Regions from separate parts of the Homo sapiens genome. Here region 2 is linked to region 1. Evidence: fine-mapped expression QTL. Tissue or cell type: prefrontal cortex. Region 1 holds a variant in brackets; the other region holds the start of a gene. All regions are shown on one strand. Distances are between the middles of the regions.

The links. PIP is the estimated chance that this variant, and not a neighbour inherited with it, causes the effect. A credible set is the group of variants that fine-mapping cannot tell apart.
Region 2: LYZL4 starts here. The variant in region 1 is the best candidate, but not a certain one, in a credible set for the expression of LYZL4 in prefrontal cortex (BrainSeq, PIP 0.54).

The regions. Positions count from the first base shown.
Region 1 is chr3:42,470,688-42,475,834 of GRCh38, reverse strand. LOC124909371 (a long non-coding RNA gene) reads left to right here and starts at 2,154. Exons shown (of 2, transcript XR_007095891.1): 1 at 2,154-2,241. The variant C/T (reference allele first, on the strand shown) is at 2,205.
Region 2 is chr3:42,408,336-42,413,482 of GRCh38, reverse strand. LYZL4 (lysozyme like 4) reads left to right here and starts at 2,873. Exons shown (of 5, transcript NM_144634.4): 1 at 2,873-3,066.

The DNA.
Region 1 (5,147 bases):
TATCTATTTCACACTACCCTGCCGCAACGGCTGCCTAATATTTTGACCACCCTTAGCTATCTCAATGACCTGAAGTTCTGTCAAGACTTCCCAGTACAGCTCTATATTAGCTATCTATTGTGTAGCAAATGACCCCAAACTTAGCAGCATAAAACAATGAATACTTATTATCTCACAGTTTTCGTGATCAGGAGTCTTAGCTGGGTTCTGTAATTCAGAACCCAGCTAAGTTCAGCTGGGTCCTGTAATTCAGAGTCTCACAAGGCTGCAATGCAGGAATCAGTCAAGGCTGTGGTTTTACCTGAGGCCCAGCTGGGGAAGGGTCTGCTTCCAAGCTCATGTAGTTGTTGACAGAATTGTTTCTTGCGGCTATAGGACCAAGGACCTCACTTTCTTGCTGGCTGCTGGAGGTCCTTGAAGGCTGTTAGCTGGAGGCTGCCCGTGGTTCTCGAGGCTGCCTGAGCTCCTTGACATGTGAGGTTCCCCAACATGGTTGCTTGCTTCGTCAAAGCCAGTAAGGGAGAGAGAAGCTCTAGTAACAGCGTTTCAGTATTGTGTAGATACTTCTGTCTCGCTGGGTTCAGACTCCTTTTGAAGTCCCAGCCTCTACAAGGTCAGGGCTGAGTGTGGGTCAGGGTCAGGGTGTGATCTCAGGTCAGGCATGAGGACAGAGCTCCAGGGACATGCTAGAAAGGGACTGGGATTTTGTTAGATTGATAATGAGAACCAATCAGTTGGTTTTCAGAAACAAGCACAGCCCTTTCCAGGAGCCACAGTGAGCCCAAAGCTATCAAGACCCTGGGTTCTCCTCATGAAATAAGGTAACTACACTGGGGGATGGAGAAAACAGCATGAAGGGGACCCAGAGTTTGTTTCTTATACTCAGCAAAGCCACTCTGCTTATCTGGGGTAAAGGCAGAAATTTCTATTTATTCAGGTGCTACTCAATCCTACTCCTCTTTTTGGCTCAGAGAAAGGAGTGCACAATTCCTGCTGGACCAGGCCTTCATAAATGAAGGCTATGTCCGGGCTTGATCATCACTCCGAATGATGGGATTGCAGGATTTCCCTATGAGAAGGGGGTGGCTGGTCCAGTTTTCCCTGTGGCATGAGAAGAAGCACAGGGTGGGCAGAGCAGTGACCTGTTGGGCAGGGAGCAGAACTGAGTAAGTATTAAGGAGACTCTGGGCCACACCCTGGGCTCTGTTGGGGTGTATACTTGTGCCCATTATATTGTTGAAGAAATTGAGGCTGGGAGAGGCTAAGGGACCTGGGGAAGCTCACATAGTGAATAAGAATGGACTGTTCCCACAGCTCCTATCCTGCCTCCCTCCTGTGCTCTGATGTCACGGTCTTTAGGCCCTGTATGTGTACTTTGCCTTTTTGTACCATATGTGGGAGGTGAGATTTGGCTGGGGGATCTTTGTGGCCCCAGGACTGAGAAGCATAGTCCCCCTCTGGAACTGCAATATATCTTTGTTTTGGGGGAAGGGCTGGAAGTTTCAGACCCTGGTGGTTTGGAGGATGGTTTAACCTCCTAGCCCGTATTCTATGGAGGCAGAGGACAGAGCAGGGTATGTTTTGGGGAGCCAATAGATGACATATGTGTTAGAAACAAGAGACAGTCCCTAAGCTGGACAGTCTGAGAGATTGTCTGCCCATCTCTGAGGAAGCTGAAATCCAAAGAGCTCCAAGCTACACACCACACAGTGTGGGGCTGGGCTGGAGCTTGAGGTTCTTTTCCCACTTTCTTATGATCTCTCTGGAGGTCTGGGAACCCAGGAGCACCCCCACGTCCCTGGCTCCCAAAGAAGGCTCTCCCTGCTGGCTGCTGAAGCCAGGGGAGAGCATGCTCTGGGTAACCCAAGGTCTGGTTAACAGAGAACTGTTGCTTAAGTCATAGATGAATTTAGAGCCCCCACAAAATCCTGCTTCCCTGGAAGATAGCTAAACTCTGTGTAAGTGTCAGGGGCTCCTCAGCACTTGGAATGCCACCATCTGTGCTCTGGTGAGGCATGCAGTGCGGTGACGTGTTGGAGAGGAGCCAGCTTCCGTCTTCCTCTCAGGGTTACAGGCTGGGGTCTGGGTTATCTGCACTGGACAATGGGCACACATTCCATCTTGAAGAACAGATGTCCTGACCAGCACCAGCCACTTCACATGCACGCAAAGCCTGGAGTTGCATAATGGCTTTTCCGTGGAGC[C/T]GGAGGGAACTGGCTGGAAGCAGCAGGAGTGATTTAGGTATGTCACAGGAAGAGTTGCTTCTTTTTGCCAAAGACCCATTGGGAAGGGAGGAGAGGCAAACCCACCTTCCCAGGAGCCTAGTTCCCAAGGGCTGGGTGCTCCTTACTGCCAGGGAGGAGTCAACAGCCTCTTTGTCTTCCAGAGTGGGAGAGGGAGTTTGCCAAGGAGGGATGAGCTGCCTTTCAGACGCCTCTAACCAGGCTCCTGGAGGAGGAAACAGGATGAAATGAATCGTCCAGGAACAGGGAGGGTGGAGACTTTGCTTTGAGGGTTGGGGTGGGGATTGGTGACCAGAGCAGTTGTTTGAGAGCACTTCACCCCTGGGCACAGGGTGGTGTGCTGCAGGTTGCAGGGGGCAGGGAACCACGGGCTGTGCCACGCAGCCCTTCCTGGAAGCCCAGTCAGGAGCTACATGGGCTGGGTCCTGATGGGCACAGTGGCTTGCTCCAGGCTGGAGTGAGCAGCCTGTTGAAAGCCAGGGCAGGTGAATCCTAAGCCAAGATTCCTGCCTCCTACACCATTGCAGGGCTCTCCTGAAACCAGAAGGATAGGTTGAGTCCTGGCTCTGTGGTGATCTTGACCATGCCATTAATTCAGCCTCTGCCCCTTCTGGACCTCAGTGTTGTCACCCGTGGAATGAAGGTGTTTAAGGGAAGGAGGAGAGAGGGAGGGCAGGGGGAAAAGAGAAGGGAGGTGGGTGATGAGTCTGCTCAGAAGAACCCAAATCCCTCCAGATATTTGTTGGTTCTGGTCTTTTGCCTGTTGGCCGTTTGGAGTGGGAGGGCATACCCTTGCTTGTTAATGGAGTGTATCTGTTTTGGGACCCAGGGCTCTGAGTTGAGCATGTGGGGGAAGGGGTGGTGGGTGGAGGGTGACTGAAAGCAGGGCTGAAGGCTGCCCTGGAGCCATCACTATCATCTCTGCCTGAATGTCTGACTTCAACCACCTCAAGGGCAATTTTGCAATGAATTCCCAGGCACATAGCCTCAAGTGTCCAAATGTAGACACTTTAAGAGAGTACCGGGACATGCTTTAAATTATGTATATTACACAAATATTTACATATTCATTAACAAACTATTTTATTTTATTGGTGGGCTTATGCAACATTTTCAATTAAGAATTCGAGCTGGGTACGGCAGCTCACACCTGTAATTCCAGCAGTTTTGGAGGCTGAGTTCGGGAAATTGCTTGACGCCAGGAGTTCAAGACTAGCCTGGGCAATATGGCAAGATCCTGTCTCTGCAAAAAAAATTTTTTAAAAATTAGCCAGGCACAGTGGCACACACCTGTAGTTGTAGATACTTAGGAGGCTGAGGTAGGAGGATCCCTGAGGCTGCAGTGAGCTATGATTGCACCACTGCACTCTAGCCTAGGCAGCAGAGCAAGATCCTATAAAAAAAATTGTTTCAAATATAAAATTCTTCCTAATTCATAATAGTAACATATAACCATGTACACTAAAACAAAAACCATTATGTGGATTATTCGGACATTAAAAATAGCATAAGCAGGCCGGGCATCCTGTCTCATGCCTGTAATCCCAGCACTTTTGGGAGGCTGAGGCGGGCAGATAGCTTGAGACCAGCCTGGGCAACATGGTGAAACCCCACCTCTACAAAAAATACAATAATTAGTTGGGTGTGGTGGTGCATTCCTGTAGTTCCAGCTACTTGGGGGGGCTAAGGTGGGAGGATTGATGCTTGCTTTCCGGACATGAAGGCTGCAGTGAGCCAGGACTGTCCCATTACTGGTAATACTAACTTTGATCACTTGGCTAAGGTAGTATCTCCCAGATTTTTTCACTTTAAAATTATCTTTTCTTCCCTTTGTTATTTGCGGGGGGTTTTTGGTTTATTTTTCGTTTTTTCAAGGAAGGGTCTTACTCCGTTGCCCAGGCTGTTCCTATTGGAAATGACACAACTGTCATTTCCAGCTGTAATGTCATTACACAACTGTAATCCCAGCACTTAGGGAGGCCGAGGTGTGTGGATCATGAAGTCAAGAGATCGAGACCATCCTGGCCAGCATTGTGAAACCCCGTCTCTATTAAAAATACAAAAATTAGCTGGGCATGGTGGCGCACACTTGTAGTCCCAGCTACTCAGGAGGCTGAGGCAGGAGAATCGCTTGAACCCGGGAGATGGAGGTTGCAGTGAGCTGAGATCACGCCACTGCACTCCAGCCTGGGTGACAGTGTGAGACTCTGTCTCAAAAAAAAAAAAAAATGTGGTTGATTTTTGTTCGTTGATCTTGTGTTCTGCTACTTTGCTAGACTCACTTCTTATTTGGAGGATTTTTTAAAAAGATTGCTTGTGATTTTCTACATAGACAGTTGTATCATTTCTGATAGAAACAGTTTTATTTTTTCCTTCTCAATCTATTTATTTTTCTTCTTTTATTGCAGGGGTTAGAAATTCTAGTACTATATATATATATGTGTGTGTATATATATGTATATATATGTGTATATATATGTATATATGTGTATATATGTATATATATGTGTATATATATATGTGTGTATATATGTATATATATGTGTATATATATATGTGTATATATGTATATATATGTGTATATATATGTGTGTGTATATATATATATATATATTTTTTTTTTTTTTTTTTTTTTTTTTTTGAGACAGAGTCTCACTCTGTCACCCAGGCTGGAGTGCAATGGTGCAGTCCACTGTAATCCTAGCACTTTGGGAGCCTGAGGCAGGCAGATCGCTTGAGACCAGCCTGGGCAACATTTTATTTATTTTTCTTCTTTTATTGCAGTGGTTAGAAATTCTAGTACTCTCTCTCTCTATATATATATATATTACGTGGTGTTTATGTGGTGAATTACACTGATTGTTCTTTAAATATTGAATCAGTCTTGTATACTTAGAATAAATC
Region 2 (5,147 bases), 62 kb after region 1:
TGTGAATGGACTTCTTTTATGGTGTTTCTTACAGGGCTGCTGATGATTATTTTTTAACCTATGTAAGTACCACACTGTGCTATGAGCTCACTTTGATGTGCCCAACACTTGCCACAATTTCTAGCACATTTTTTAGGGTCTAAGAAGGATTCTCAGGTGCTTGGATGTGGCCAATATAATAAGCCATAGCTCTAAGAAAGAGAGGATTCTGCCCAGTTTACTCAGTGTATACAGCCAGTGCACTAAACCCCATTGGTAACAAAGCCTATTGCATCCAGTCACACCCAGTAACTCAACAGGGCAAATAACAGGGCAGCAAACCCTGGGGTTTTTGCCTGAGGAGGCCCCTGCACCATGAGGGCTCCTAGGTCAATTTTTCTGGGAAAGGTAAATGTCATATCGGGAAAGAAGGGCAATTCCCTTTCCTCTGGGAATAAGACCTTTGCTGGAAGTTGTGTGATTGCGGCACAGCTTGCCCAGTTGATTCCGCAGAACAGTTGGTGCTTGTCAATAGGCTCCAGAGCAGATGGCCCGTGTGCTAGGGGCCCAGACAGATGGTTGCCTGGAGGCGCAGACCAAAGCAAGAGCATGGAGCTGAGGGGATGTGTCCGTTATCAATTGCTGTGTAACAACCTCCTCACCCCAGACTTACAACAGTGGCTAAATGCAAGAAATATTCATCATTGCTTACTAGGCTGAGGGTCAACTGGACACTTCTGCTTATCTTGACTGGACTTGATTGATCATGGCTGTCATCATTCATGTATCTATGGTCAGCTGGGGGCTGGCCAGCCTAGGGTGATCTTCCATGTGTGGCAGTTAACTGTCATCCACTGTAGCAATAGGGGTGACTGGTGCCACTCATTTCTTGCAAGATGAGGCCAGGCATGTTCATGTGGTGGTGGCAGAGCTCAGGGTGAGCAGAGGCCATCAGGCTTCCTGAGGCCTAGGATTAGTACTACCTCATTCCACTGTGATCTATTGTCAGAGCAAGACAGGCCAACCCAACCCCTGGGGTGGGGAGTGGATGGCATCCCTTGATGGGAGCAGCTAAGTTGCAAAGCCAAGGGGCACAGATACAGAGAAGACTGTAAAATTGTGGCCTTTTTTTTTTTTTTTTCAAACTGTCTACCGCTGTGGATGAGGAGAATATTTCCACTATTATGCCTTCAGAGGTGGGAGTTTCTGCAGATGGAATGTTTCTCGATTAACTGATTTCTGTGAAAACACCTTAGTTTTCTGCCAACCAGCCTCCAGCTGAGCCAACACTAAAGACTGTTGAGAAAATAGGCATGTATGGATTTAAGCCTCAGCGTTTATGGCCTGGTTTTAGTTTTTCTTTTATGATTCTTTACATTATTAATTTTCAATTAATCGACTAATTACCAGTTCTAATTGAGTCAGCCAGACAGACTAATGTGTTTTCAAAAGGCCAATTTGCCCTCAATCATCTCAATATCTCTTAACTTTTGGAGCTGAAAAGGACCTTAAAGATAACCCAGTCTGATGCCCTCAAGTCACAGATGAAGATGCCCAGGCCCCAAGAGAGGATGTCTTTGACCATGGCCCTCTGGTGACTAGGAAAGCTACATAAGGGCTTCTCCCACTGTTCCACCTAGAAGGCAGTCCTATGAGGGCCCGGAAGAATGCTGTAGCAGGCAGAATACTGATCTCCCAAAGGTGTCCTAATGAAGCCATGCCCCAAAGAGTTAAAAAAACCAATGACTAACAGAAATTCTTGAGTTTGCAGGATGGCAGGTAAGAAAAGAAACAACTTGCTGAAATACTGAAACTCCCTCTGCTTATGAGATATAAGAACTGGCTGAAATCAGCTGGAACCAAGATGGCCGACCAGAGTCTAGGCAGAACCAGCTTGCTGATGTCACAGACTAAATTTCCACCATGTGCTTTATACTAACTTTCCCCATAATTGCCCAGGGGACCCATAAAATAGTATGAAGAGATAACTGCATATGACCCAGGACTTTCCAGCCCTTCCCTTTCTTCCACCAAATCACCTACTAATCTTAGAATCCCCTAAACTTTTTCTAATAAAAATACTGCATCACAGGAGACAGATTTGAGGTTGACACTGCTGTCTCCTTGAAAATCGACAATATATTGATTATATATTTAAAATTAAATATTTATATTTCAATAAAAAGCCTTTTCTCAAACACCCAGTGTCATAGCGTTGGCTTCCAATGCATTGAATCACTTTTGTTCGGTAACACTCACCCCTGGAACCTCTGAATGTGTTAGTTTGCATGGCAAAAGAGACTTTGCAGATGTGTTTAAGGTTAAAGACTTTGAGAAGCAGAGGTTATCCTGGATGGTCCGGCTGGACCAATCTAATCATGAGTCCTTAGACAGGGAAGGGGAGGAAGAAAAGAGGGTCAGAAAGATACAATGACAGAAGAAGAGGCAAGAGAAATTCAAAGTGTGAGAGGGTTTGACTCACCCTTGCTGGCTTTGAAGATAGAGGAAGGCAACAGAGCTAAGAAATGCAGACAGTGCTTAGCAGCTGGGAATGGCCCTTAGCCGACAGCCAGCAAGGAAACAGGGAACTCAGCCCTGTGACTGCAGAAACTTTATTCTGCCAACAACCTCAATGAGCAAGGGAATGAATCCTCTTCTAAAGCCTTTGGGAAGGAGCACAGCCCTGCTGACACCTTAATTTTAGGCCTGTGAGACCCATTTCTGACTTCAGGGCTATAGAACTTTAAGATAATAAATTGTGTTGTTTAAGCCACTAAATTTGTGGTAATGTATTTCAGCAGCAATAGAAAACTAATACAAATGTGACAGTGACAGACCCTCCCTTTTTCAGAATATCCTGGTGCATAGCAACTGATGTCATAGAAAGGATTCTAGAAGAGCATGTCATGGAGAACTCTTGGGTGCAGACAAGTGGATGATTAATGAAGTAGCATCTGAAAAACCCAAGGAACCAAATGTAGGTGGAGCAACTTCCCTGCAACACACGTCGAAGCTGCTGCAGTGGCTGTTCTTCCCCTCCCCTTGGAAAGGCACCAAAAGCCAGCCTTTGGAAGGGCTGGTGGACTGGTAGGCGGGTATATGGTGGGCAGGAGGGTAACGGGCATGACAATACCCAGCTGCAGGAGAAGCTCATCAGCAAATTCACTTATTGCTTATTTGATGACAGTTCAGTTGGGAAGAGGAGGTTTTTGTTCATTCATTCATTCAACAAAGTTTCATTGAGCACCTACTCTGTATTAGGTTCTGTTCTGAGTTCTGGGGATAATGAAGAGAAAAAACCAGACCAGGTTTCTGCATTCCTGGTGCTTACACTCAGGTATGGGAGAGAGAAAATAAGCAAGTGAACAGATAAATGAGCAATGGAATTCCTGATATTGATTAATGGTATGAAGAAAATAAAGACCGTCTTCTTTGATGGGGCAGTGATCAAGGAATCTTCTTTGAGGTAGTGAGCTCGTATGTGGTGGTCAGGGCAGTCATGTTCCAGGTAGAAGGAATGGCTGGTGCAAAGGACCTGTGGTGGGAATGAAATTGGCATATTCAAGGAAAAGAAATGTGCAAGGTGACTATGGCAGAGTGAAGGTGAACAAAGGAGAGAGTGATGTAAATTCAGACTGGAGAGGTGCTCAGTGGCTGCATCAGAAAGTCTTGTCAGCCAGGTTGAGGAGTTGGGACCTTATTCAAAGTGCAAGGGGAATCCACTGGAGATTAGTGATGTGACTGGACACATGCTTTATAAAATGCCTTTCCAACTGCTGTGTGGGCAGTGGGTTTAGGGGAACAGAGAGGAGTATGTAGTAGAGGAGTGTAGTTAGAAAGTCTCCACCTTAGAGGTGATGGTGGTCTGGATTAGGATGATGGCAGAAAAGATGAGAGGCGAATAGGTTCTGGAAGAACTGTAGATGGCACACCCTGATGAACCTGATGAACTGGCTTCTGGGGGAGAGGGGAGGAGAGGACTCAGTATGCCTTCTACGAGTTGAGATGATGCCTGCCCTGTGGAAGACAGACATTACCAGAAAATGTTGTTTGCTCTGTTGGGAAATGAAACATGCATTGAGATTCACTTTTTTTAATTATTATAATTTAAGTTCCAGGGTACATGTGCACAATGTACAGGTTTGATACATCAGTATAAAAGGGCAGGGGTGCAACCAGAGCTAAGAAAAATGTCCATACAAGTAAAATCTAGTGCTGTGCATATTTAATTCACTTACTCTTCAAATCAACACAATTAATTAAGTACTGTTTTAATCTGTGTTACAGATGAGGAAACTGAGGAATCAAGAGGTTGAGCAATTTGTCTAAGATTACTGCTGGGATCACTGATATCTCAGCCACTGAGGGGTAAAGCTGGAACTTGGACCCAGGCAATCTGATTCCCAAGTCTGAGCTCTTAAATGCAAGGCCCTCCTAGATACTGTATTTGGTGTACTGGTCATGTCTGCAACTAATCATACAGCTTGAGAGTTTGAACAAACGTTTGAAAGTATGATTCTTCTAATTCATGAATACACTTATTTCTAACTTTTGCCCAAGTTAGACATTTCTCAACAGGGGGCAATTTTGTCCCATAGGAACATTTTTGTCTGACATAATTTGGAGGCAGAGCTACTAGCATCTAGAGGCCAGGTGTACTCCTAAACAATCCAATGCACAGGATGTTCCCAGAACTAAGCATATTCCAGCCCAAGTGCCAAGGTTGAGAACCCCCGGTGTAGGTGTATACAGCCAGGAAGACATGCACCTGTGAACGGTGACAAACAGGAGGGTGCAATGAATTGTCCAATTGATATATAACGATGGAGTGCTAGGGGCTATGGGGTATTCCAGGAGGAAGATGAGTTCCAATTTCCAATTGCACATTCTAGTCTGAGGAATGGGACAGAGCACAAAACAGGACAATCATCTGCAGTGTGTCATGGAAGAGACTCTGAGAGCAATAGGGGCTCAGAGGGAAAATGGAACTTTTATGGAGGATCCATCAGGATTCAAGAAGTTGGCACCCGGGGTGAGGCCTCAAGATGCAGCAACATTTGAATGGGGAAAGGCATGGTAGGGCCCTGTGCATTGGGAAGAACCATGCATGAGGGCACAGCTCCCTGGAGAATGGAGTGGGGAGGTGCAGAGGCATCCAGAGAGGGAGT